Homo sapiens: one gene and its partners. The protein of the gene in region 1 purifies or fractionates together with the protein of each later gene. This does not show direct contact. Each region holds a gene or a part of one and is shown in the gene's direction. Other genes may lie near its edges.

Region 1 (2,942 bases):
CAGGGCTTTTGAAAGGCAGTAGAGGAAAAGAGCATGGGCAGCTTTATTTATGCCAGCTAGAAGGCATGATATCGTATGGCCTTGTTTTTGTCTGTCTGCAGAAGTTGCCTGATAATTCCAATTGGTGTAAGTCCTGGGGACAGCTAGGGTCCCTATTGGGTTATGGGCAGCATGTTGTTGGTGGAGGGTGTTTGCATTGGCATAGACAGCCATCCAGATGCATTCCCTGTCTTCTGGGGAGAGGGTGGAGGAGAGCATGACATACGTGTCTTGCCAGGTAAGGTCGTAAGATTGAGTGGCATACAAAAATTCCTTGTGGAAAGAGATGGGATCCTTGGATAAAGGAGCCAAGTCTCTTTTAAAATGGGAGAGGCTGGCTAGAGAGATGGGAACATGATCTCAGATTATGCTTTTGTCCCTCATGATCTCCTGCAAGGGAAGGGCTTTGGAAGGCCTTTGGGTGTGTGCCTGGTTTTCAGCACTAGGGGGGTGGGTGTGAGACCTGGTTTGTGGTGGAGAACGAAGAGGGGATGGAGGGCGACAGTAAAGGGGTGGAGGAGCCAGAGCCAAAGGAGAAGAAGGAGGAAATGATGTTGGGAGGGGGACTGAGATAGGGGTTTTTTTAACCAGGCTGAAATTAGAGGAGAAAGGCTTGTCCTGAGGAGGAGGCATTTTTGCGGGTTTTTCATTGAGGAGGAGGATTTGAAAAGGGGAAAAAGATTGGCAGAGAGAGAGAGCAATCCATGAACGGAGATAAGCAAAGCACTTTTGATCCTTTACCATTGCATTAGAGAAAGTTTTTAGATTATGTTCAATTTGGAAGTTGAAAGTTTTGTTGTTTGGAGGAGGGGAGTGCATACCCCTGAAGGGAATGAGTATCTCCAGAGGGTAGTGAATACCCCAGAGGGAAGCAAGTACCTCAGAAGGGAGTTAATATCCCAGAAAAGAGTGAGTGCCCAGAAGGGGAGTGAATACCCCGGAGAAAAGTGACTACCCAATTCCTCCCAGGAGAATGGACGTAGGAGAGCTGGGATGTACCAAAGAGCTGTGGCAGCTCTTCACAGTCCCCTAGAGGCCAGAGTGGCTGGAGTGGTGAGCGTTCTGAAGGTGTCCCCTGAGAAGGCAGGCTGCGGTCACCTGGTGACCAGGGAGACCTCCAACTCAGTGCTAGGATTTTCTGGAGAACCAGCAGAAATAGAGAAAAATCTGGAAAGGAGGAAAAGGGAGATTCACCCACTAACTGGAGACTGGTGTTGGATGTAAGATCCAGCAATGGGGGTGATCCTTACTGGAGCCACCCAGAAAGGGTAAGGAAGCAGAGGATGGAGAGTTTGATCAGGACCTAGAGGTCAGCCCAGGACTGGAGAAAATGAGAGAATAAGGAGAACGGGGCTGGGAACAGGTAGTCCACTCAGGATATGGAAGCAGGCTCAGGTCTAGTTTTTGCTGCTTGCTGCCTTCCAGGATGCAAAGAAGACTTACCTGGTAGAACTCAATCCCCATCCTGGGTTTTGGCACCAAAATGTTAGGTTTTGAAGGGAAGGCAAGGGTTAAAGACACACAAAGAGGGGACCACTCAAACAGCAACACAGGTATATTGCCGACAGCTGCAGAAGTGGGGGACCAGCTTAATGCCAGAGCCCACTACCACTTACAGGCTGGGGTACTTACAGGTATTGGTGGGAGGCAGCTGGGCAGTATGGGATGCTGCCTGGCAGGATATTGATAAGATATTCTTATGATCAGGTGGTTTGACCCTTTTTCCTGTGGGATGTCATTGTGGTGTTTCTTGGACCTTTGCCCAGAAAGATATGATAGCAATGTTTCTTAGTTGGGCCTTTGTCCACCTTGTAGTCAAGTGGTTAGACAGGATGTTTCTCATGGCCTGAACCCCCATGGAATGTTTCACTTTGACCGAGGTCTGCATAATAGCAGGGAGCTTACAAAGTCATGCAGTTTGGAGTAACACAGATGACCCTACCCATGCTCCTCTTCTTCCCCATAGATCCCTACCCTATGATTCCACCTTGCTCTTCTCTGGCACAAGCCCCTTCCTCAACCTGCATTCCTTCTTATAAAGCCCCCCTTGCTATCTATTCTCTACCCTCTTCATCCAAAATAACACCATTCTGGCCTCTCCCTGTTTTTTTACCAGAAGAAGAAGAATCTGCACAGAGCCTCAGCCCCTGAACAGAGTTTGAAAGAGACAGAAAAAGCAAAATATCCAACATTAGTGTTTTACTGCAGGAAGAATAAGAAAAGAAATTCAAATCAACTGGAGAATAACCAGCCTACAGAGAGCTCCACTGATCCAATCAAAGAGAAAGGAGACCTAGACATATCTGCAGGATCTCCACAGGATGGTGGGCAGAATTAGTCCAAATTGGACAAATCATCACCACTGATGGCGATGATTACAATAAAATCAGTTTGAGGAGCTGATGACTGTGTATACCTCTGCCTTTTTTTCTGATGGTGGGGAGGAAGGGAAGGGAAAAGATAGGCATTTGAGAACGGAGGGATATGAGATCCTGTAGCATTGGCGGACAGATCCACAGGTTAGCCAGACATTGTAAATAAAGACTGGGGGAGGACTGATTCCTGGAGACAAATTTTCTTCTTAAAATTTTATCTCACAGGAGAGGAAGAAAAGGATTTGGTGTTCCTTGGAGCACGTGCATGTTTAGAAGAGCACATAAGAAGATCTGTATTGTATGTAGGTGACAGTGACACTCTTTCCAAAATGAAGACATCAGAATCACCACCTTCAGGCCACATACCTCAGAGTGGTGTGTTTTGTAACTCACCCAATGCTGTGAGCAACTGAAGGTCCTCAAAAGGAACAAGAACCTCACCCTACAGAAAGTAAGACAGCATGCCACACACAATAAAATAATGGTGTTTGGAGGACATGCTTCCAATACTAGGGCGCTTGTTAAGAA
Region 2 (3,500 bases), on another chromosome or scaffold:
AAGTAAATTGCATATAGCAGTAAACAGATTTCATCAAATTTAATGCAATACCATAAACCTTAAATAACACCATGGGTCCCATATGACGTGCCACTGGTGATGCTGCAGGTGCTCCCAAGAAGCAGAGAAAAAAGACATTACAAGAAAAAGTTGATTTGTTTGATATGTACTGTAGATAGAGGTCTGCAGTTGGAGGTTGCCCCCCAACCCCATTTCAGACAGAGGATTCATCTTGTAATCAAATTATGTAAACTTATAGTATTGATAAATGCAGTGCAGTAGTGTAAATGTATTTTCCCTTTCCTACGACTTTCTTAATATTTTCTTAGCTTTATTGTAAGAATATAGTACGTAATATATTAACATACAACATATCTGTCAGTTGTTTATGTTATTGGTACGGCTTTCGGTCAGTAGTAGGCTATTAGTAGTTAAGTTTTTGGTGAATCAAAGTTAGGTGTGGGTTTTCGACTGCACAGGGGGTTGGTGCCCCAACCCAAGTATTGTTCAAGGGTCAGCTGTACGTCCAGATTTTGCAGGGTTCAATTTTACTGCAAAATGTCTTTTAGTTAATACGTAGGAGATTTAGATAAAAGGTCATAAAGCAAGGAATGTCTTTTGATTAATATTTTCTCTTTCTAATGGGTTTCAATTTTGTGATTCCCACAGATTTTGCTTAGATGACATTCTCATTAAGGTAAAAATGGATATAGCTCATTTGTATTGAATAGCAAAAATGTTAGTTTTATAACCCAGTCTTGTTACGAATGAAGCACCTCAGCACATAGAAAACACTAGAGTTGAAAAGCTGAAAGTCTTTTCAGAAACTTCTTACTTTTAGAAATAACGGGGTGAGATTTTTTAATATTGAGATTTAGAACTGATTTTTACAGGTGAGGATGTGGATAGACACAAAGCGGTAAGCAACTTGCTCAGGGTTACACAATCCAGTTGTGGTAGAATCTGACCTAAAATCCAAAATCGTTACCTAAAATTTTACTGTGCATTAATGAGGAGTTATACTAGTAACACAAATTTAATGTTAGGTATTTAATAAAGATTTAAAATGAATCAAGACAGGCCAGGCTTTGTTTCTGACAAGTTATGTTTTTTCTATTTGGATTTCCTAGAGTAGTTCAACTAGGTGCAGAGGAATGGGCCTGTGACCATGGCCTTTAGATCAGACCTGGTGTGGGCTCACCCTGATGACAGGTGACTAAATCAGAGTTGAGGTCACTGCTGACACCAGGTTTCTAGAGAGAGTTAGAGGTAGAGATACCACCATTGGGGAAAAATGGCTACTAAGTTTACTTTCTCCTCTTATCAGCAAGAGGATGTCACCTCCTGATGCTGACTTAGTTCAGAACCAAGGAGAGTCTGATTTTTGTAAAATACTCCTTCAAAGCAGGTTTGGCAGAGTTTCTTAAAAGGGCCAGGCAGTAAATATTTTAAGCTCTGAAGGCCAAGTGGTCTCTTGTTACAACTCATCAACTCTGCCCTTGAATGGAAGGAGCCTTAGGCTTTGTGTAATCAAATAGTGTGGCTTTGTACCAATAAGACTGTACAAAAACCAGGTAGCCAATGGGCCCCTGCCTTAAAGCAATTCTGATAGCGTAAGCATGTGCAGGATAGTGAAGTTAGCCCCAGTTATAAGGGTATAATAAGGATTGGACTATATTCTCAACTTTAGTAAGATCCCACCTATTTTAAGAGTCACTGGTGGATGTATGTTATGGCAGCTTTGCACACCATTAAGTAACCAGGGGTTTAAGGATCTCATCCTGCTCTGTGTAGTTACTTCTGTATCAAAAATTGACAGCTCTTGTAACCAATCTATAACTTATCTCAACTCACCCTTGCAACCTTGATATTACTTGGTGATAAGTAGTCTCCATGGAAAACCAAAAGTGGCACCCGTGGGAATATAACTGAACATTTATTGCTTTTTACATATGCTGAAATACGGAGATATTGAATAATGACCAAGATGACACTTGTGTTTTAGAATAATTCTTCTGATTAGAGGTGGGGCAGGAAGGGCAGGGGAGGAGTTAGGAAGTAGAATTGAAAAGTATCCTGGGTTTATTGATTGTGGGACTAGGAGAAGAGGCATTTAGGATGACTCCTTAATTTCTTTTTCTTTTTTTTTTTTTTTTTTGAGTCTTGCTCTGTCACCCAGGCTGGAGTGCAGTGGCACAATCTCAACTCACTGCAACCTCTGCCTCCCAGGTTCAAGCGATTCTCCTGCCTCAGCCTCCCAAGTAGCTGGGATTACAGGCGCATGCCACCATGCCTGGCTAATTTTTTGTATTTTTAGTAGAGACAGGGTTTCACTGTGTTAGCCAGGATGTTCTTGATCTCGAACTCCTGACCTGAAGTGATCTGCCCACCTCAGCCTCTCAAAGTGCTGGGATTACAGGCGTGAGCCACCATGCCCGGCTGATGACTCCTTTAATTTCTAACTTGGGTGCATTTGTTAATCTTAGCCATGAAGGAAGGAGGGCAGGTTTTTGTGGGGCATGTGCTAAGTTCACTTTGGATATGAGTTTTGAGTATGGTGAGAGGGAAGTTGTGGGGCATCCAGAGCCCGGGAGTAAACACTAGGAAGAAAGCTCTGTGAGGCTGTTCAACTGTTGAAGCTCTGCTGTTTGCCTAACTTGATGTGGCCATTTTAGTTCCTTTAATGTCATACTCTGCTGTTAGGAATGTAAATTTATGGAGTCTTTTTGCACATCATTTTATATCAAGAGCCTTAAAAATACTAACTCCTGGCCAGGTGTAGGGGCTCACGCCTATAATCCCAATATTTTTGGAGACCAAGGTTGGCAGATCACTTCAGGTCAGGAGTTCAAGATCAGCCTGACCAACATGGTGAAACCCCATCTCTACTAAAAATATAAAAATTAGCCGGGCATGGTGGTGTGCACCTGTAGTCCCAGCTACTTGGGAGACTGAACCAGAAGAAGCGCTTGAAGCTGGGAGGCAGAGCTGGCAGTGAGCTGAGATCATGCCACTGTACTCCAGCCTAGGTGACAGAGTGAGACTCCATCTCCAAAAAAAAAAAAAAAAAAAAAAAAAAAGTATTCCTTCTCACCTGGTAATTCTGGTTTTGAGAGTTTATGCTAATTTTTTTCCTAAATTATAGACAGATTTTGAACACAAAATGTTCATCACAAAAACAAGTGAGTGTCTAAATGCCCAGTAGTTGGGAAATAGCTAAGTCACTGATGGTTACCTAAGATGGAATGATGAACATCCACTTTGTACCCCACAAATATAGACAATTATAATTTGTCAGTATTCAGCTTAAAAAAAGTAAGATGCTAGATGACTTTTTTTTTTCTTCTCTTTTTTGGAGACAGGGTTTTTGCTCTGTTACGCAGCCTGTAGTGCAGTGACACAATCATAGCTCGCTGCCCCCTTGACTTTCTGGGCTAAAGCAATTCTCCTACCTCAGCCTCCCAAGTAGGTGAGACTACAGGCATGCACCACCACGCCTG
Region 3 (3,500 bases), on another chromosome or scaffold:
TCAAATACCACCTGAGGGCTGCATGATTTCTAGGTGGTGGGAACACAGTGTGGACCAGGACAGACAGTGCCCTGCTTTTATAGAGTAAGCAAGGGTGGGGAGTTTTATGCAGGGCGTGTGTGGCGCTGTAGGTGTGTTCCCCACAGACCCAGCCATGCTCAGGAGCCGTAACTGGCTTTTTTCTCTCTGCCTGCCCATGTCAAGGTCCGCCAGCTCCTGGAGGAAGGACGCCTGGAATTTGTCATCGGAGGCCAGGTCATGCATGACGAGGCTGTGACGCACCTTGATGACCAGATCCTGCAGCTCACAGGTTTGGCCACCCTACCCTGCACCCAGGGTCCCTCAGGACCTCCAGTGGGGCTGGGACATGGTATCAGAACCCCCAGGTTCTGAGCTCTGTCTGCCCCTCTTAGTGGGGTCGGGGACCTTAACCAGTGAAAGCAGTGATTTGCTAGTGCCATATTCATGCCTCACCAAGGAAGTTGAATGTAGGGGTTAAGAGCATGGATGCTAGAGTCAGATGGTCTCAATATATCCTGGCTCTGCCAATTCCCTCCTCTGTGACCCTGGAAAGGAATGTAACTTCAGTTTCCTCATAGATAAAATGAGTTTGATGGTAATACCTACCTCAAAGGGTTGTTGTGAGTATTAAATGGGATAATTCAAATAAAGCACTTTAGTAGGATGTGGGTTCCCTAGTAAATGCTCAGTAAGTGTTTGCTGCCTTCCATCACAATTACCACCTTCAGCACCATAATGACCATGACTACTACCATCACCACCACCACCACGATGACCATCACTACCACTACCATCACCACCACCACCACCATCACCATCACCACTACCACCATCACCACCATCACCACCACCATCACCATCACCACCACCACCACCATCACCATCACCAGCACCACCACCATCACCATCACCACTACCACCACCACCACCATCACCACCACCATCACCATCACCACCACCACCACCACCATCACCATCACCAGCACCACCACCATCACCATCACCACCACCACCACCACCATCACCACCACCACCCTTCACCACCATCACCACCACCACCATCACCACCACCATCACCATCACCACCACCATCACCACCACCACCACCATCACCACCACCACCACCACCACCATCACCATCACCACCACCATCACCATCACCACCACCACCACTACCCTTCACCATCACCACCACCACCATCACCATCACCACCACCATCACCACCACCCTTCACCATCACCACCACCCTTCACCACCACAATGACCATCACTACCACTACCATCACCACCACCATCATAACTACCATCACCACCACCCTTCACCACTGCTATGACCACCACTACCACTACCATTACTACCACTACCATCACCACCATCACCACTACCACCATCATCTTCACCACTACAATGACCATTACTACCACTACCATCACCACCACCCCCTAAACACTATCACCATGATCACCACCCATCACTGTCGCCACCACCATCACCACATCCATTACTACCATCCCCTCCACAATCATCATCACCACCACCATGACCATCTCCCTCACCATTGTGTCCACTGTCCTCAGCACCATCACCCACAGTGCCGTGGGGCACTCTACTCACCATTTACCAAATGCCTTTCACAGTGACACCCCAGCCAATCCTAATGGCGGGCTGATGGTGAGGCATGGTGATGCCCAGTTTCATTTTGCAGATGTAGAAACTGAGATCCAAAGAAATGCAGTAACTCTCTCCAGGGTAGATGGCCAGGACTTGAGTCCAGGCCTAGGGACTGAAGCTCCGAGTCCACAGTCACTCCACTACAGCATGGGCCCTGATTTCCCCATTTGTAAAACATCCAGGCAGAGAGCAATGTTGTCAAAGGATGTTTTTGGCACTCTCCCTTTTCTCATCTGTAATCTGGAGTGTTCCCCTGTCTCAGTTTCTTACTGCCTTACATCTGGACTTTGCTCAAACCCTAGACTTGCCCTTCCATGAGAAGGAGGCGTGATGGACACAGCCCTACAGACAGAGCTCCTCCTGTGGCCAGGAGCTCAGCCCCTGCTTGTCCCCCTGCATCCCCACAGGCCCAGAGGTAACAGGGGAGGACAGCAAGGCTCAGAGGGAGCACCTTGCCCTCAGCCGCCTGCTGTGGCTCCCTGACTCCAGAGCCCCTGCTCTTTCACTCCCCCATGTGAAGTGTGGGCAAGGGATCTATCCCAACAGACTTCCCCCACACCCCTTCACAAGCCCACTGCCAGGGAATGTGTGACACTGTAGGCGTGTCCCCCACCTGCCTCCTGCCCCGTGCCAGCGAGGAGGCTCTGGGGCTGTTTCTCACCTGTGCCATTTCACGCAGTGCTCCCCCTCATTCTCCACCCTCCTCCTCAAGATGCAGCTGAGAAGCCCCTCCCGCAGGAAATCTCTGAGTCTCTGCAGTTCTGTGTCACCTCCCCACTTAACCGCTGAACCTCAAGATGCCCCTGGCAGGGACCCCCATCTGACTCATCTCAGCACCCAGCATAGGGTCTGGCCCAGACCACTGCTTACTGGGCAAGGCTGGGCAAGGGGTGGGCGCTGAACTGCCCTGCCCTGAGGGTACCCACCACTGGGGTACCTCGCCTCTGGCCTCAGCCCACCGTGCCTAAGTGCTGATACCCCAGCGCTGACCCTGCAGGTCTGACCTGGCAACTGGAAGCCTCAGGGAAGCTGAGGCTGTGTCGCTCTGGGGCAGGAAGAGCCTCCAGAGACACAAGAGACAGCGGCTGTTGTGAGGCTCCATTTCCAAACCTGTCCAAGCTCATGGGGCCCTCAGGGTACAGACATGTGGGTTTCTTTCATGATAACCACCTTGTTCTAGGTACAAGATGTACACGTATTTTTTTTTCAGTCCTCAGGGCAATCTGGTAGATGGGTAATCTTACAAATGCTTATTTGTAGAGAAGTTTGAGGCTCAAATGCTATCCAAATGTGCCCACCACCAGCTAAGTGATGGGACCCAGATCCAACCCTAGCCCGGCCGAGTCAGGAAGGTTACTTGTGGCTGAGCCCCTCTCACTGGCGGCTGAGCCAAGCCCTTTCCCATCTGCTATCTCTTAGTTGCCTCAGAACAGCCTGGTAGCAAGTGGTACTGTTCACAGCCCCATTTGACAGATGAGGAAACTGAGGTACTGAGAGATGCGGGATTTATATATATGCAGTAGGTAACAGAACTGGCGCTCAAGCCCATGTGTGCCTGGCCTGGGCTCTTTCCTTAACTTGTAGTCCCTAGGGCGGGGGCAGAGTGTGTGTATCAGACCACCCATCTCAGATGTCCCAGGCATTCTGGCTGTGAATTATGTCCACATTGGGCTGGTTTTCTCAGATATGTTGGGGTAAGAGGGGCTGGATCACCCCTCACTGCTTCCGGGCCCTTTATCCTCCATCTCACCTTGGTGGAGCCCCTGCCTCGAGGCAGGCCCTGGACAGCAAAGGAAGACAGGAGCA
Region 4 (3,500 bases), on another chromosome or scaffold:
GGGCGTGTGGTGGGTGATGGTTCAGTGGAGTGAGTGGTGGGTGCAGCCTTCCTGCTGATGAACCACCAGGCCTTCCGGCCGGCACCAGTCCATGGTCCCTGGCTCCGGCAGGCTTGTCCTCCCTGGTGTGGTGCTTTGCTAAACCTCCGCCCTCCCTCCATCTTCCTCCCACAACAGAACAGTGTTGAGGCTCTGCCAGGCGAGATCACTGCCTCGTCCTGACTCCCTGGGCCCGGGACCATCCCTGGCAGGCACTTGAGGGGGGCCAGCAGCCTGGGGCCCGGGGCTCAAGGCCCCGTGGGGTCTGGCGAGAGGCAAGGGCCCAGGCACTGATTCTCTGAGTGCTGGCAAAGGGCCTGTGGTGTCCGCTGGTGTCTGGGAATTGCTGGAGGGTCAAAAGCATTAGGCTTAGCCAGGAAAGTCATGGTTAGGGTTAAACTCATGTCTGCTGAAAATTGCCTGAATTAAAATTGAACAAATGTGCCTTAACTCGAAAGAAAAGAGCAGACATTCAGAATAACACGTTGCCAAGAACCCTGAAGGGTGGCCCCTCTGAGGCACCAGCTACCCCCAGCCGGGCTGGCGTGGAGGATGGCGGGGGTTGTCTGCTGGTTGGGTGGCATGTGGACTTGTCTTGGATGCCATGATTTATATACATATATATATATATACTTTTTTTTTTTTTTTTTTGAGACACTCTCGCTCTGTCTCAGGCTGGAGTGTAGTGATGTGATCTCGGCTCATGGCAATCTCCCCTCCCAGGTTCAAGTGATTCTTGTGCCTCTGCCTCCGGAGGAGGCTGGAATCACAGGTGTGCACCACCATGCCTGGCTAATTTTTGTATTTTTAGTAGAGAAGACGGGGTTTTGCCATCTTTTTTTTTTTTTTTTGAGACAGAGTCTCGCTCTTGTCACCCAGGCTGGAGTATAGAGGCGCAATCTCGGCTCACTGCAACCTCCACCTCCTGGGTTCAAGCTATTCTCCTGCCCCAGCCTCCTGAGCAGTGGGATTACAGGCACCCGCCACCATGCCCGGCTAATTTTTTATATTTTTAGTAAAGATGGGGTTTCACCATGTTAGCCAGGATGGTCTCGATCTCCTGACCTTGTGATCCACCCGCCTCGGCCTCCCAAAGTGCTGGGATTACAGGCGTGAGCCACTGCGCCCAGCCATAATTTTTGTACTTTAGTAGAGTCAGGGTTTTGCCATATTGGTCAGGCTGGTCTCGAACTCCTGACCTCAGATAAGCCATCCGCCTCGGCCTCCCAAAGTGGTGGGATTATAGGTGTGAGCCACCATGCCTGGCTGCAGCCTTTTTTTTTCTTTTTCTTTCTTTTTTTTTTTTGAGACAGAGTCTCGCTCTGTCCCCCAGGCTGGAGTGCGGTGGTGCGATCTTGCTCACTGCAAGCTCCGCCTCCGGGTTCACGCCATTCTCCCGCCTCAGCCTCCTGAGTAGCCGGGACTACAGGCGCCTGCCACCACGCCTGGCTAATTTTTTGTGTTTTTAGTAGAGACAGGGTTTCCCTGTGGTAGCCAGGATGGTCTCGATTTCCTGATCTTGTGATCCACCTGCCTCGGCCTCGCAAAGTTCTGGGATTACAGGCGTGAGCCACCGTGCCCGGCCCCAGGCTGGTAATTTTTTATTTTTTGTAGAGGCAGGGTTTCTTTGTTGCTCTGTGTGGACAGAAAGCTTAGTTTGTTTCTCTGATGGTTAGTCCCCCACAGAATTTTAACGTGATTCTGTGTTGATGACACTTTCTGTTGCATGAGACAATATTCCAGATCTCTCTGGGTCCCTCCTGGATTCAAGGCATCCTCCTGCCTCGGCCTCCCGAGTAGCTGGGACCACAGGTATGTGTCACAGCCCAAGGCCTCCAGCACAAGCCTTATTCTCCCATCCCCAGACTCAGGAGGCCATGCAGCCACACACCGGGGGAGGGTTCCAGACGTCACTGTGGGACGGGAGTGACACCAACAGGGCAGGGAGGGCCAGGACATTGGCTCATGCTGGCCGGTGGCCTCTCGGGATTGGCCACACGTGCTCAACCCATGGGAATCTCACTCAAGGGTCTGATGGGCCTGCTCCTCCTGTTTACGCCAAAGTCCAGAAGGCCTCCGGGGGCGAGTGGGAGGACGCAGAGTGGGTGAGCGGAGCTACCTTCCTCACCGCGGTCCATGTGGAAGCCAGGGCAGGGGAGGGGCCTGCCCACTGCACCCACCCCCAGCACCCCACCCCGTGGCTGCCACATCTCACCTCTGGACAATTTTCTTGGCCCATCCTTGGGAGTTTTTTTTTTTTTTTTTTTTTTGAGACAGAGTCTTGCTCCTGTCACCGAGGCCAGAGTGCAGTGGCATGATCTCAGCTCAGTGCAGCCTCCGCCTCCTGGCTTCAAGCAATTCTCCTGCCTCAGCCTCCAGAGTAGCTGGGACTAAGGCGCCTGCCACGACGCCTGGCTAATTTTTGTAATTTGGTATAGATGAGTTTCACCATATTGGCCAGGCTGGTCTCAAACTCCTGACCTTGTGATCCGCCTGTCTCAGCCTCCCAAAGTGCTGGGATTACAGGTGTGAGCCACCGCGCCCAGCTGGGAGTTTATTTCTTAGATGTGTGTTAACTTCAGCTGAGGCTCCTGTGTGCCTCTGTTTCATGGCCTTCGGGTGTTGGCCGCCCTCTACTGAACGTGGTCCCTGAGGCCGCAGGGACTGTGCAAAGCCGGATGTCCAGGCCCTGGGAGTCCAATGGGGGCAGTCGATTCTATGGATGGCACATCCTCTTTGCCTGCCCTGCCCTGGGCCCTCTCTTGGCCCACTTTTCTGGGTACGTTTCAGGCCCTCATGCCCAGTTGGGGCCCTAGCATGGGTCAGGCCCTCCGCCTGGTGTCGCCTTCTTGCCCGGGCTGAGTCTTTGGTTTCTTTCTTTGTGGGTTCAATGTCGAACGCTTTGCGTCAGTGGGACTTCTGCAGGACCTGGGCGGCGCAGGTGTCCGGAAGATGGGACAGGTTTCTGTTCCGATGGCGCCTCTCTCCCCTTCCTCCCGCCCGGCAGTACTTAGGTTCTTCCTTCAGAAAGGATTTCCCCATGACTTGAAGAGCAGGCTCTCGCACGCAGGCCCGAAACCTGCTCAGCCTCCCCGTGGCCCTGAGCCTGTCTATTGAAGGCCCCGCCTCACCCGCCAGCGGCTCCTGTCCTCTCGCCTTGCTCTGAGCCTTTGCCTCGTGGCACTCACTGGCACCGTGGTTTTGCTGCCGGAATTCAGGTGGGATCTTGCGTCCCTGTGAGCTCATGGCTTGGTCTGTGGTCCCTTTGGTCCTCCTCAGGTCCTCACAGCCTCTGGTGGGGCTTGCAGGTCTAGCCCTCTGGGCGGGGCCTCACCTCGCATCTCCTCGCCAGGAGATCCAGAAGGGTGGCTGCTCGCTCATCCTTGTGTAGCTGAGGAGGCTGCTGCTTTGTCCCTGAAGTAGACATTTCTCCTTAACTGAATGATTCTTAATTTATTGCC
Region 5 (4,201 bases), on another chromosome or scaffold:
TAGTGGTGGTATCCAGAATACAGCTATGCCTTAAAGTTTTTTTCTTTCAAGTTTCTATGAATCATTAACCATGTGCCAGTCACTACGCTAAATGCTGTACATACATTTAATCATTACAATTGCTTGTGTTGGGTATAATTAATCCCCTTTTACAGAAGCTGATTAAACAGCCGGGTGTGGAGGCATGCACCTGTAGTCCTAGCTACTTGGGAGGCTGAGGTGGGAGAATCGCTTGAACCTGGGAGGCGGAGGTTGCAGTGGGCCATGATCGCGCCACTGTGCTACAGCCTGGGTGACAGAGCAAGACCCTGTCTCAAACAAAACAAAACCAAAAAACAAAAAACTGATGATACAGGGAGAAGTAATGGAACTAGGGTTGGAACCAAGATCTGTCTAGTTCCGAAACTGTGTGTGTAGAACTCTCACAATATTCTGGCTTTTCTAGGAAATGTTTTTTAGGCAGTTATCCTAGGACATGCCTTCCTAGGAGAAAGGAGTACTGTATTCTGAACCACGGGGGGACCAAAGACTGTCCCCACATCTCACTTCGGTTATGATTATCTCGAAAGTCCCTCAGTTCCAGGGTGGACATTCAAGCCACAAGCACCTATAGGGAACTTTGACCCCTAAGTTCAACCACAGTAGTTTATTTTACAAATGGCGAAGGCGAAGGGCAGCCTGAGCACTTGCCCCAAATCACAATGAGAAGGGCTAGAGACCCAGTTTGTTATTGTCTTTTTCCTCACAACTTCCTCTTTGTAGTTAAGAAGGGAAGCAGAAGCTGACCTTTTTGTCTCACCCCGTTTCTCACGTGGAACTGCCGCACCCAGGGTGAGTAACGTGCCAAAGGGCACACTTGCCTGTGGGCTGGCCTGCGGGAAGGTCTGTTCCCACCGAAAAGACCCACATTGTCAGCACATCCTAATCAAGTAGCTACTAAGTGGAGGGACCGCAGACTGGGTGTCACGGGGAGGGGCCTGCAGCGACCAGGCCCGTCCCAGGATGGCTGCGGAGGCCCCTGGATCCACAGTGGGGAGGGCCCCGAGAGCCGGGAGACCTGGGTTCCCTTCCCGGGCACGCCTTTGGAACTGCGGCGTCCAGCCGCACAACCGTCACTCTGGGGCCACGGCAATCCCTGCGCCCGCCCTTGGTCCCCGCTGCTTCTGGGATCTTTATGGGCGGGGGACACGCGCCAGCGTCACAAAGCGCCGCGACCGCGCGGGAGACCGAGAGGAGGCGTGGAAACGGGAGGAGGAGGAGGTGGTAGTGGAGGAGAGCCAGGCACGGTGGGGGGAGGGGAGGGAGGGGCACGCGCACGCGCGTCGGGCCGCCAGCCGCTGAGAGCCGCCCAGCACCCGGCGTGCGCCCCTCCTCCCTCTCTCCCTCCCTCCCTCCCTCCCTGCTTCTCGGCTCCGTTGCTCCCGCGGCGCGAGGCGCTCTCGCTCTCCTCCTCCTCCGCCGTCGCCCCTCCCCCCGCGCAGCCCCCGCCGCCACCGCCGCGAGACCCCCGCACGCCGCTCTCCCCCCACCCTCTCCTGCCCCGCGCGCCCTCCGGCCCCTGCGGCCCCCGAAGAGAACGAGAGGGCGAGCGAGCGCGGCGTTCCCGGGCCGGCCCGGCCCCCTCCCTTCACCATCGCCGGCCCTCCGCCGCCTTCCTCCGCTTCCACCTCCTCTCCCCCCCCCCAAGTTGAGGCCCCCTCCGGGGGGGGGAGGCCCGGGACCGGGACCCGTAGCGAATTCTCCTAACTCCCTCGACCTCTCCTCTCGCCCGGCCCGAGTGTGAGGAGAAGGGCCCGGCCCGGCCTGCGTCGTGTGTGAGGAGGACCCCGGGCGGGCCCACGGGCCGTGTGGGGCCTGGTCTGGCCCGCCGGGTGTGTGAAGACCGGGGCCCGGTGCTGCCCGGCCGGAGGGCGAGCGGAGGGGAGGGGCCTGGTCCGGCCCGGCCGGTGCGTGAGGACTGGGGCCCGGGCCCGGCGCCGCCGCCGCCGCCGCCGCCGCGATGGCCCAGCAGCAGATGACCAGCTCGCAGAAGGCCCTGATGCTCGAGCTGAAATCCCTGCAGGAGGAACCGGTGGAGGGCTTCCGGATCACCCTGGTGGACGAGTCCGACCTCTACAACTGGGAGGTGGCCATCTTCGGACCCCCCAACACCCTCTACGAAGGCGGCTACTTCAAGGTACCCTCACCCTCCTCCCGGACCCTGCTTCCGCGGCCGAGGCCTCCGGCTCCCCGCCGCTTTCTGCAGTTCCTGGGACCAGGAGTATGAGCACGGGCGAGTGGAGGGGGCTTCTCACCCGTGCAGCCCCCTCCCCCATCCCTGGAGGCAGGAAGGCCTTGCTCGCCGAGTGCCTTTTCTTTGTCATGGGGGCGGGGGCTCGGGCGGGGGCGGGAGGGCAGGCTGCACCGGGAAATCGGAGAGCCTCTCTGGTTAGGGTAGTGTCTACGGGCGGAGGAGGCCGCCTTTGTTTCCCCCGCTGAGGGTGGGTGGAAAGAGCGGTGGTCTATCTGTGCTTTTTCGTTCTCCGGTCGGAACCCCTCCCTGCGCAGGCTGGAACTGCCCCAGAGGGCAGGGTGACCTGCACCGACTGGATTGGACTTTTCTTTTTTGGGGGGTGGGGGTGGGGGTGGGGTGGGGGAGGGGCACCAGCTTGTCATTTCAGAAGCTGCCGAGTGCCCTGACATTTTGAGGATTTGTTGGGCATCTTGGGTAGTGGTAGTGCCAACTTTGCATTCCAATGGGTGGTGGTGAAGAATGGGACCCTAGGGGTGGTAAAAAAAAAAAAAAAAAAAAAAAGGGTGCCCGCGTCGTCTTGTCATTATCCATTTGGGGGAACTTTAACCCTCTTTCCGTTCACATTCTCTGCTTACCTCAGTCACTGGTTCTTTCAAAATGCCCTTTGTCCTCACCATGCCACCAAGTTTGCCAACCTTTTTTTCTACAGGTAGAAGTATCCACAAAGGGTGGAACGAGTCATGTAGGGAGACTGATAGCTTCCTACTTTCAGAGACAAAATTGAAACCTGCTCAAGTGGTTAACTCTAGCTAAAGGGGTGGTCTCACAGATGACAAGTATCATCTGAGGCGAGATCGTTTCTCTGGGTGGGATGTATGGTTCCTTAGCGACCACAGACATTGTTTCTGTTGTTTTATATGGTCTTAGAACAGTGGTTATCATTCCAGAATCTAATGATTTTTTTTTAACTCCAAGGTAGTTAACTTGGAGATAATGAGTGTTTGTTTTGTTTTGTTTTTACTTGAGTGTTTTTGCAGGGAGGAATCACAGATTGAAAGTCTGAATATTTTAAATGATGGGGGCAGAGAGAGGAAATGAGTGCTTAGGAATCCATTTAGTTTTATTTTTTTATTTTCAAAATTAAGTAAAATAGGCCAGTGAGTCAATTTTAGTTTGGAAGGGAGGGGTTATCTTGGCACAAGTTTTAAATGAGTATCTTAGTCATGTAGTTGTGATGTGTATTTTTAGGACTACCCAATTACTTAACTCTTGTTTTCTACCCTTCTAAAGGTGGAAACCTCAGTTTTATGCTTGAAATTAGGTCAACTTTGTAGGAAATGGGATTGATACAGGAATGTTTAATATTCACTACTGTATATAGTCACTGAGTACCTAGGAAAAGCACGTTTTTAGAATATTATGTAAGTGCGGTACCCCTACCAACTGTTAGGCTTCATCTTTTGTGGTCAGCCTACCCTATACTTTTCAGATGGAGGTATTTAAAATTACTAAGAAAACATGCAACTTATTAGTAACAAAGTGGAAAAGATATTGCTGTGTTTATGATGAAGCATATTCTCTGTTGTCAAATATAAATTTTTATGCATACTGGAAAAATTAGTTGTACAAAATTGAATGTATGTGATACCTTTCTTTTTTTTTTTTGAGACGGAGTCTCGCTCTGTCACCCTGGCTGGAGTGCAGTGGCGCGATCTCGCCTCACTGCAACCTCCGCCTCCCAGATTCAAGCTATTCTCCTGCCTCAGCCTCCCAAGCTGCTGGGACTACAGGCGCACGCCACCACGCCCAGCTAATTTTTGTATTTTTAGTAGAGATGGGGTTTCACCATATTGGCCAGGCCGGTCTCGAACTCCAGACCCTGTGATCAACCCGCCTCTGCCTCCCAAAGTGCTGGGATTACAGGCGTGAGCCACTGCGCCCGGCCATGATGCCTTTTCTGACAAAACA
Region 6 (3,500 bases), on another chromosome or scaffold:
GTTTCTTTACTTTTACTATTTGTCTTCTGAATGTAACTTTCTTCTTTGATCTATCCTCACATGCTCTCAGTCTACTATAGACTTCATCCGTGTTTAGTAAAGTGTCCCTGGAGTAGTGATTGCAGACGTGGGAAGATGGACCAGAAAGGGGAACACATTTCTTCAGATAAAAATATGGTGCCATAAGAATCTTCAAAAGGAAGCTTGTAAAAGATCTATGGTGTTGCTTTGGAAATGCCAGTGCATAGATGTAGGAATTAAGATGATGGTACTGTGAGATCAGACAGATTGGAGAGGCAGCTGGGGAAGTGTGGGTAGATGGCAGAGGAAATCCCCTATACTCCCCAGAAAGGGGAAGGCCAGTGAGAGGAAGCCTGGAGTTGACACATCAGGCAGGGCTAAGAAAGGGGTACGTGCCAGAAATTTGCAGGGATCGCAAGAAAAGGCAAGAGTAGGAAAAGAAAGGACAGGAAGGGAAAATAGAGAAGACCCTGCAAGAGAAAGGCACTGGCTTGAAAGTCGCAAGTTGCTCAGTGATCAAGACTAGTAACTGTGTGGTGGGAACTTTACTGTGAGAAAAACAACAGGTTTAAATGGCCCCTGATTTACCATGAATTTGAAGGAAATGCCTCAAAGATTTAAAATGTTTAAATTTATTGAAAGCACATTTGAATGAACTTTTAGCTCTCTCAAAGACAGGTAATCAGACAAATGATGTTCAAGAAAGCTATTCTTTAATAGGTATTGTAAAACTAACACCTTTTTTGGCTTTAGGGTAGTTTATTTCTCATCACTGATGTTTATGAAGAGGTGGGGGAGGTGTATAATAAGATGTCTTGCATAATCCATTTCTCAGATTTATGGCTTAATCAGAGTCTCTTTTTCTAAATACATTATGTCTACATTTTTCTTTTTTTTTTTCTTTTTTTTTTTTTTTAGCTGTTAATATCGCTTGCATATATTTCTTTTTTTTTTATTTTATTTTATTTTATTTCTATTTTTTTTTTTTTTATTGATCATTCTTGGGTGTTTCTCGCAGAGGGGGATTTGGCAGGGTCATAGGACAATAGTGGAGGGAAGGTCAGCAGATAAACAAGTGAACAAAGGTCTCTGGTTTTCCTAGGCAGAGGACCCTGCGGCCTTCGGCCTTCCGCAGTGTTTGTGTCCCTGGGTACTTAAGATTAGGGAGTGGTGATGACTCTTAACGAGCATGCTGCCTTCAAGCATCTGTTTAACAAAGCACATCTTGCACCGCCCTTAATCCATTTAACCCTGAGTGGACACAGCACATGTTTCAGAGAGCACAGGGTTGGGGATAAGGTCACAGATCAACAGGATCCCAAGGCAGAAGAATTTTTCTGAGTACAGAACAAAATGAAAAGTCTCCCATGTCTACTTCTATCCACACAGACCCGGCAACCATCCGATTTCTCAATTTTTTCCCCACCCTTCCCGCCTTTCTATTCCACAAAACCGCCATTGTCATCATGGCCCATCCCCAATGAGCCGCTGGGCACACCTCCCAGACGGGGTCGTGGCCGGGCAGAGGGGCTCCTCACTTCCCAGTGGGGGCGGCCGGGCAGAAGCGCCCCTCACCTCCCGGATGGGGCGGCTGGCCGGGCGGGGGGCTGACCCCCCCACCACCCTCCCGGACGGGGCGGCTGGCCAGGCAGAGGGGCTCCTCACTTCCCAGTAGGGGCGGCCGGGCAGAGGCGCCCCTCACCTCCCGGACGGGGCGGCCGGCCGGAAGGGGGGCTGACCCCCCCACCTCCCTCCCGGACGGGGCGGCTGGCCGGGCAGAGGGGCTCCTCACTTCCCAGTAGGGGCGGCCGGGCAGAGGCGCCCCTCACCTCCCGGACGGGGCGGCTGGCCAGGCGGGGGGCTGATCCCCCCACCTCCCTCCCGGACGGGGCGGCTGGCCGGGCGGGGGGCTGACCCCCCCCACCTCCCTCCCGGACGGGGCGGCTGGCCGGGCGGGGGGCTGACCCCCCCCTCCCCCCTCCCGGACGGGGCGGCTGGCCGGGCGGGGGGCTGACCCCCCCACCTCCCTCCCGGGCGGGGCGGCTGGCCGGGCAGAGGGGCTCCTCACTTCCCAGTAGGGGCGGCCGGGCAGAGGCGCCCCTCACCTCCCGGACGGGGCGGCTGGCCAGGCGGGGGGCTGATCCCCCCACCTCCCTCCCGGACTGGGCGGCTGGCCGGGCGGGGGGCTGACCCCCCCACCTCCCTCCTGGACGGGGCGACTGGCCGGGCAGAGGGGCTCCTCACTTCCCAGTAGGGGCGGCCGGGCAGAGGCGCCCCTCACCTCCCGGACGGGGCGGCCAGCCGGGCGGGGGGCTGACCCCCCCACCTCCCTCCCGGACGGGGTGGCTGCCGGGCGGAGACGCTCCTCACTTCCCAGACGGGGTGGTTGCCGGACGGAGGGGCTCCTCACTTCTCAGACGGGGCGGTTGCCAGGCAGAGGGTTTCCTCACTTTTCAGACGGAGCGGCCGGGCAGAGACGCTCCTCACCTCCCAGACAGGGTTGCGGCCCAGCAGAGGCGCTCCTCACATCCCAGACAGGGCGGTGGGGCAGAGGTGCTCCCCACATCTCAGACGATGGGCGGCCGGGCAGAGACGCTCCTCACTTCCTAGATGGGATGGCGGCGGGGAAGAGGCGCTCCTCGCTTCCTAGATGGGATGGCGGCCGGGCAGAGACGCTCCTCACTTTCCAGACTGGGCAGCCAGGCAGAGGGGCTCCTCATATCCCAGACGATGGGTGGCCAAGCAGAGACGCTCCTCACTTCCCAGACGGGGTGGCGGCCGGGCAGAGGCTGCAATCTCGGCTCTTTGGGAGGCCAAGGCAGGCGGCTGGGAGGTGGTTGTAGCGAGCCGAGATCACGCCGCTGCACTCCAGCCTGGGCACCATTGAGCACTGAGTGAACGAGACTCCATCTGCAATCCCGGCACCTCGGGAGGCCGAGGCTGGCGGATCACTCGCGGTTAGGAGCTGGAGACCAGCCCGGCCAACACATCGAAACCCCGTCTCCACCAAAAAAAAACGAAAACCAGTCAGGCGTGGCGGCACGCGCCTGCAATCGCAGGCACTCGGCAGGCTGAGGCAGGAGAATCAGGCAGGGAGGTTGCAGTGAGCTGAGATGGCAGCAGTACCGTCCAGCTTTGGCTCGGCATCAGAGGGAGACCGTGGAGGGAGAGAGAGGGAGAGGGAGAGGGAGAGGGAGAGGGAGAGGGAGAGGGAGAGGGAGAGCTATGTCTACATTTTTCTATGCCATTAAAATAAAGGCAAGCATAATGAGATATTCTAGCTTTATAAGTCTTCTTTCCTCTATTTTTTTCCAGCATGTGGAAATATGGGTAAAAAGCAGTAGTTTTAATATGTAAATGATATTATTATAGTTACCTTTTTTTACATTGTTTAAACAGCTTTTTTGAGGTGTAATATGTAATATGTAAAATTCTTGCATATAAAACAAAATTCAATGACTTTTAGTAGATTTCAGAGT
Region 7 (4,166 bases), on another chromosome or scaffold:
AAGGGAGTAGGAGCAGCAGAGCATGGCTGGCTGCCTCTGGGCTTGTGTTTTTAATGCTAACCTCGGCTCAAGTCAAGATGAAGGTCAAGGAACTCGAAAGCTTTCCCCGCTGCTTAGAATGCAGATGCTGCCAGCCAACACCAGAAGGAAAGAAGTGGTGCACCGGGAGGGGTGGGCAGGCACGGGGTGGGGTGAGGGATACAGAAATTCCAGCCTTGGTTACACATCTTGGGCTATCAGCTAAGTAGTCTCCACTGCAATAGCTCCCCTGAAGGTGCAAGACCACAAGTTTTGGAGGAGGAGAAAGTTGACCCTAATGATAATCGGATCCAATTCCTTTTGCAAATGAGGAAACTGAAGACCACAGCAGCAGCAACGTTACTCAAGAACCAAGTTGGTGGCAGGGCTGGGCTCAGGATGTGGGGTTCCTGAATTCAAGGCCAAATTTGCCCTTTTGCAGGAAGGAAACTGCCAGTTTTTCATGGCAGTAGGGGAGGGCAGCTTTCCTCCAGTACAGAGACTATCTTTTGTACTTAGTGGGAGTTCAGGAAATGCTGAGTGGCTTATGGTGGGCTGGCATCTGCTCCAGGAAGGGCTGCAGGAGTCTGATTTATCTCCACCCCAGCACAGGGTATAGCACCCACTGGGTGCTCAACGCATTTGTTGATGAAGGACTAACACCTATTGAGTGCTCGCCATGCAGTGCTGGGTGCCTTCTTTGAATGTCACATTTAACCCTTCCAGCAACCCTAGAATTAGGTACCATTACTATCCCGCTTTTTTTTTTTTTCCCTGCAAACAGGCTCAGGTTAAGTAATTCCTCAGAATTCCAAACCTGACTGCTTTTAAGCACGACGATGACTCTCAATGAATGTTGAAAGCAGATGCGCCCCAGAGTAGGGCTTCTCAGACTTTGACCGTAGGGACCTCCTGGGGTCCGTAAAATGTCCACTCTGATCCAGCAGGGCTGGGCTGGGGCGGGGATTCTGTCAAGCGCCCGGGTGGTGCCTCCACTGCAGGGAGCCGCTCACGAGCCGAACCCGGCGGTCCCTGTAATCATGAAAGACTGAAGCGACCCCTAGGTGTACCTCCGCCACGAAATGTTTATTGGGCCCTGCATTTAATTCAGGGAAGGAAGTTACCGCGCTTGCCAGTTTACAAAGATACACAAACGGCCTGGACCGGGATGGGGCGAGGACCCCTGAGACTCCAGGGCGGTGGCGTCTTCCCCCCGGGACGCGCCCAGGAGTGGCGCGCGGGGCCCCCGCGTCACGGCGCCCGCGCTCCGCAGCTCCCGGAGCCCGGCGGGCCCGCCCCAGGGGCGGGACGGGGCGGCTCCCGGCGCGAGCCCCCGCCCAGCTGATCCGCCGCTCTCCGCCTCGCTTGCTCCTGCCGGGCGTGCAGGGCCCCGCCGCCGCCATGTCGGGCTCGTTCGAGCTCTCGGTGCAGGATCTCAACGACCTGCTCTCGGACGGCAGCGGCTGCTACAGCCTCCCGAGCCAGCCCTGCAACGAGGTCACCCCGCGGATCTACGTGGGCAACGCGTGAGTCCCTTTCGCGAGCCCGGCCCCGCCGTCCCTCTCGGGACGCCCCGCCCACCCGAGGCTGGGGTCGGGGTGTCGCGAGTCTTGGGTTGGGGGAGCCCGGGCGCGATGGCCCCTCCGGGAGCCACAGCGGGGGCTTGGGAGGGGCCTGGAGTCGACGCCTACCCCCGCGCGTGGGGCCAAGGAACTGGAACCCTGCCTGGCCGGGCGCGGCCCTTCCCCGTGGCGGGGTGCACGGAGCCCGGGTGGCGCCTGCCCGGGTCCCAGCCGCCACCCGCTTGGGGCTTGGCCTTGGGCGGGGTCGGGGCTACCATGTTCACTTAACAGGTGACCCTCGGTCGCCCGGCCGGTCTCCTGCCCGCGCGTCATGTGACAGCTGCCTGGTTCTGCAGTGAGGTCACCGCGGAATGTCTGCCTTCGCCGCCATGGCAACGGGCCGACGTCACAATTCGGGCATGGAATTTTCCCGGCCCGGCAGTCCCGGATCAGGGAACCTAAACACCCCAAATGAGCGAGTCCGGGGAGCTGGGCCGGGATTTCCAGGCCCCCACCTTCCAGATGTGATTTGATTTACAGGAGATTCTAGAACGGTCCAGTGATAACCCCCCTAAGGACCTGAGCCACCACCTAGAAAAGGCTCTTGACCTTTCACCCCCAGGCTCTGTCACCCAGGCTGGAGTGCAATGGCGAGATCTCGGCTCACTGCAACCTCTGCCTCCTGGGTTCAAGCAATTCTCCTGCCTCAGCCTCCCGAGTAGCTGGGATTACAGGCGCCCGCCACCACGCCTGGCTACTTTTTGTATTTTTAGTAGAGACGGGGTTTCACCATATTGGCCAGGCTGGTCTCTTGGCCAGGCTGGTCTCAAACTCCTGACCTCATGATCCGCCCACCTCGGCCTCCAAAAGTGCTGGGATTACAGGCGTGAGCCACCGCACCCGGACAGTAAGAGATTTTTTTTAATTTAAATTTTAAATTTTTTTTCTAGTAAGAATGTCTAATCAGCAGGAAAGAACCAGTGTTAACATTCTGAGATGTGAAATAGGAGCCTCAAGAAAGAATATATTAGCATGCCTGTACAGCCTTGGAAAGCCTCAAGTTGGATTTTCACGATACTCTGAGGACCCAGTTACCAAAATCCTAAGCTTCATGGCTCAGCCCAAGGATGGCATGTTGAAAACTCAAAACTAACCCTCCTCCCATTTTACAGAGGAGGAAATGGTGGCTCAGAGTGTGTGAGGGACTACAAGGACAGGGTCAATGTCTTGTTCATGTATGTATTTCCTGACCTCCGCTATGACCTGCTGTTTAGCCTGCCAAGGACTGCCACGGAAATGGGGGTCATCATGGAACTAGAAGGGGTCCATCAGGCCCCAGCCTCATGGGGACAGTTCTCATCCATTCCATCATTCATTCACCAGTCTGAGCACCTGCTTTATGTCAGGCACTGTACAATGTTCATTCATAGTAGAGATAGTAATAATGATAATTGTAAATTTTTTGAATGTTGAATTATTAATAGTATTAGAGGCCTGGCACGATGGCTCACGCCTGTAATCCCAGCACTTTGGGAGGCCGAGGCGGGTGGGTCACCTGAGGTCAGCAGTTCGAGACCAGCCTGACCAACATGGTGAAACCCTGTCTCTACTAAAAATACAAAAATTAGCTGGGCATGGTGCCTGGCGCCTGTGATCCCAGCTACTCCGGAGGCTGAGGCAGGAGAATCGTTTGAACACGGGAGGTGGAGGTTACAGTGAGCCAAGATCGTACCGTTGCACTCCAACTGGGCAACAAGAGCGAAACTCCATCTCAAAAAAAAAAAGTATTAGAGAAGGGAGATGAATGGGAGTGACTCTTCAAAGTGTTTTTTTCTATCAGCCACTGCTTCACAGTCTTGCGCGGTGTCCTAAGCAGGAATAAACAGAGTCCCACAGTGTCAGCCAAAGGCTTCAGGAATTGGAAAGCTCTAGAGACACCCTTCCTCTTGCACCAAGCAGCAAGCAGGCCTTGTTAGCCTCAGGAATCCCGCTTGCTTGGGCAGGTTGGCCATTCAGCTGTCATCACTTCCCAAGTGGAAACCAAGGTTGTACACGTCTGGTGTAGCCAGAGTGGCAATTGCTGATGGCCACTGTAGAAAATACATCCCTTGCCCTCTAAGCACCTCTGACCTTGACTTGGCCAGGGGTGTGGGGGTTCCTCAACAGGGAGGATCAGTGAGCACCAAGCACCAAGAGGATTTGGGCTCCATTCCCTTAACAAAATCAGGGCCGCAGCCACGTCCTCACAAGGCAGAGCCAGAGCCTGTGTGAGCCACATGTGCCAGGCCTTGGGGGTTTTGCAGCAGATGTGGGCATGAGGGGCAGAGTGAGGTGGAAGATAGAGCAGGGCTGGATGTCGGGAGAAAGGAGGTCTTCTCCCAGATCTGCCACCAGCAGCACACGGGGCCTGTGCCCATCCCTCTGCTCATCCTGTTGGGCCTGAGTTCAAGCTCTGTTAAGCAGGGATATTGCCATCCTTGTTCCTCACAGGGCTGCTCGCAGTGGGCAAGCAAGATCACACAGGAGGTGGCATTTTATAAAGTATAAACTGCTATTTGGACTGGGATGTTTTGTGAGATGAAATAA

What was found.
Region 2: the proteins of SPANXN4 (region 1) and CARNMT1 purify together in Homo sapiens (affinity purification with mass spectrometry; one large-scale study listed by BioGRID and IntAct). This does not show direct contact.
Region 3: the proteins of SPANXN4 (region 1) and MAN2B2 purify together in Homo sapiens (affinity purification with mass spectrometry; one large-scale study listed by BioGRID and IntAct). This does not show direct contact.
Region 4: the proteins of SPANXN4 (region 1) and SSU72 purify together in Homo sapiens (affinity purification with mass spectrometry; one large-scale study listed by BioGRID and IntAct). This does not show direct contact.
Region 5: the proteins of SPANXN4 (region 1) and UBE2R2 purify together in Homo sapiens (affinity purification with mass spectrometry; one large-scale study listed by BioGRID and IntAct). This does not show direct contact.
Region 6: the proteins of SPANXN4 (region 1) and INTS9 purify together in Homo sapiens (affinity purification with mass spectrometry; one large-scale study listed by BioGRID and IntAct). This does not show direct contact.
Region 7: the proteins of SPANXN4 (region 1) and DUSP3 purify together in Homo sapiens (affinity purification with mass spectrometry; one large-scale study listed by BioGRID and IntAct). This does not show direct contact.

The regions. Positions count from the first base shown.
Region 1 is NC_000023.11:143,031,870-143,034,811, forward strand, and holds the end of SPANXN4 (sperm protein associated with the nucleus on the X chromosome N4), read left to right. Parts: intron 1-2,155; coding exon 2,156-2,377; 3' UTR 2,378-2,442; downstream 2,443-2,942.
Region 2 is NC_000009.12:75,021,794-75,025,293, reverse strand, and holds part of CARNMT1 (carnosine N-methyltransferase), read left to right. Parts: intron 1-3,500.
Region 3 is NC_000004.12:6,578,189-6,581,688, forward strand, and holds part of MAN2B2 (epididymis-specific alpha-mannosidase isoform 1 precursor), read left to right. Parts: intron 1-204; coding exon 205-310; intron 311-3,500.
Region 4 is NC_000001.11:1,547,364-1,550,863, reverse strand, and holds part of SSU72 (RNA polymerase II subunit A C-terminal domain phosphatase SSU72), read left to right. Parts: intron 1-3,500. UniProt on the Homo sapiens protein: Protein phosphatase that catalyzes the dephosphorylation of the C-terminal domain of RNA polymerase II. Plays a role in RNA processing and termination. Plays a role in pre-mRNA polyadenylation via its interaction with SYMPK.
Region 5 is NC_000009.12:33,815,759-33,819,959, forward strand, and holds the start of UBE2R2 (ubiquitin-conjugating enzyme E2 R2), read left to right. Parts: upstream 1-1,401; 5' UTR 1,402-1,999; coding exon 2,000-2,176; intron 2,177-2,868; exon of another isoform or gene 2,869-3,110; intron 3,111-4,201. UniProt on the Homo sapiens protein: E2 ubiquitin-conjugating enzyme that accepts ubiquitin from an E1 ubiquitin-activating protein, and catalyzes its covalent attachment to other proteins by an E3 ubiquitin-protein ligase complex.
Region 6 is NC_000008.11:28,879,970-28,883,469, reverse strand, and holds part of INTS9 (integrator complex subunit 9), read left to right. Parts: intron 1-3,500. UniProt on the Homo sapiens protein: Component of the integrator complex, a multiprotein complex that terminates RNA polymerase II (Pol II) transcription in the promoter-proximal region of genes.
Region 7 is NC_000017.11:43,776,178-43,780,343, reverse strand, and holds the start of DUSP3 (dual specificity protein phosphatase 3), read left to right. Parts: upstream 1-1,366; 5' UTR 1,367-1,419; coding exon 1,420-1,544; intron 1,545-4,166. UniProt on the Homo sapiens protein: Shows activity both for tyrosine-protein phosphate and serine-protein phosphate, but displays a strong preference toward phosphotyrosines. Specifically dephosphorylates and inactivates ERK1 and ERK2.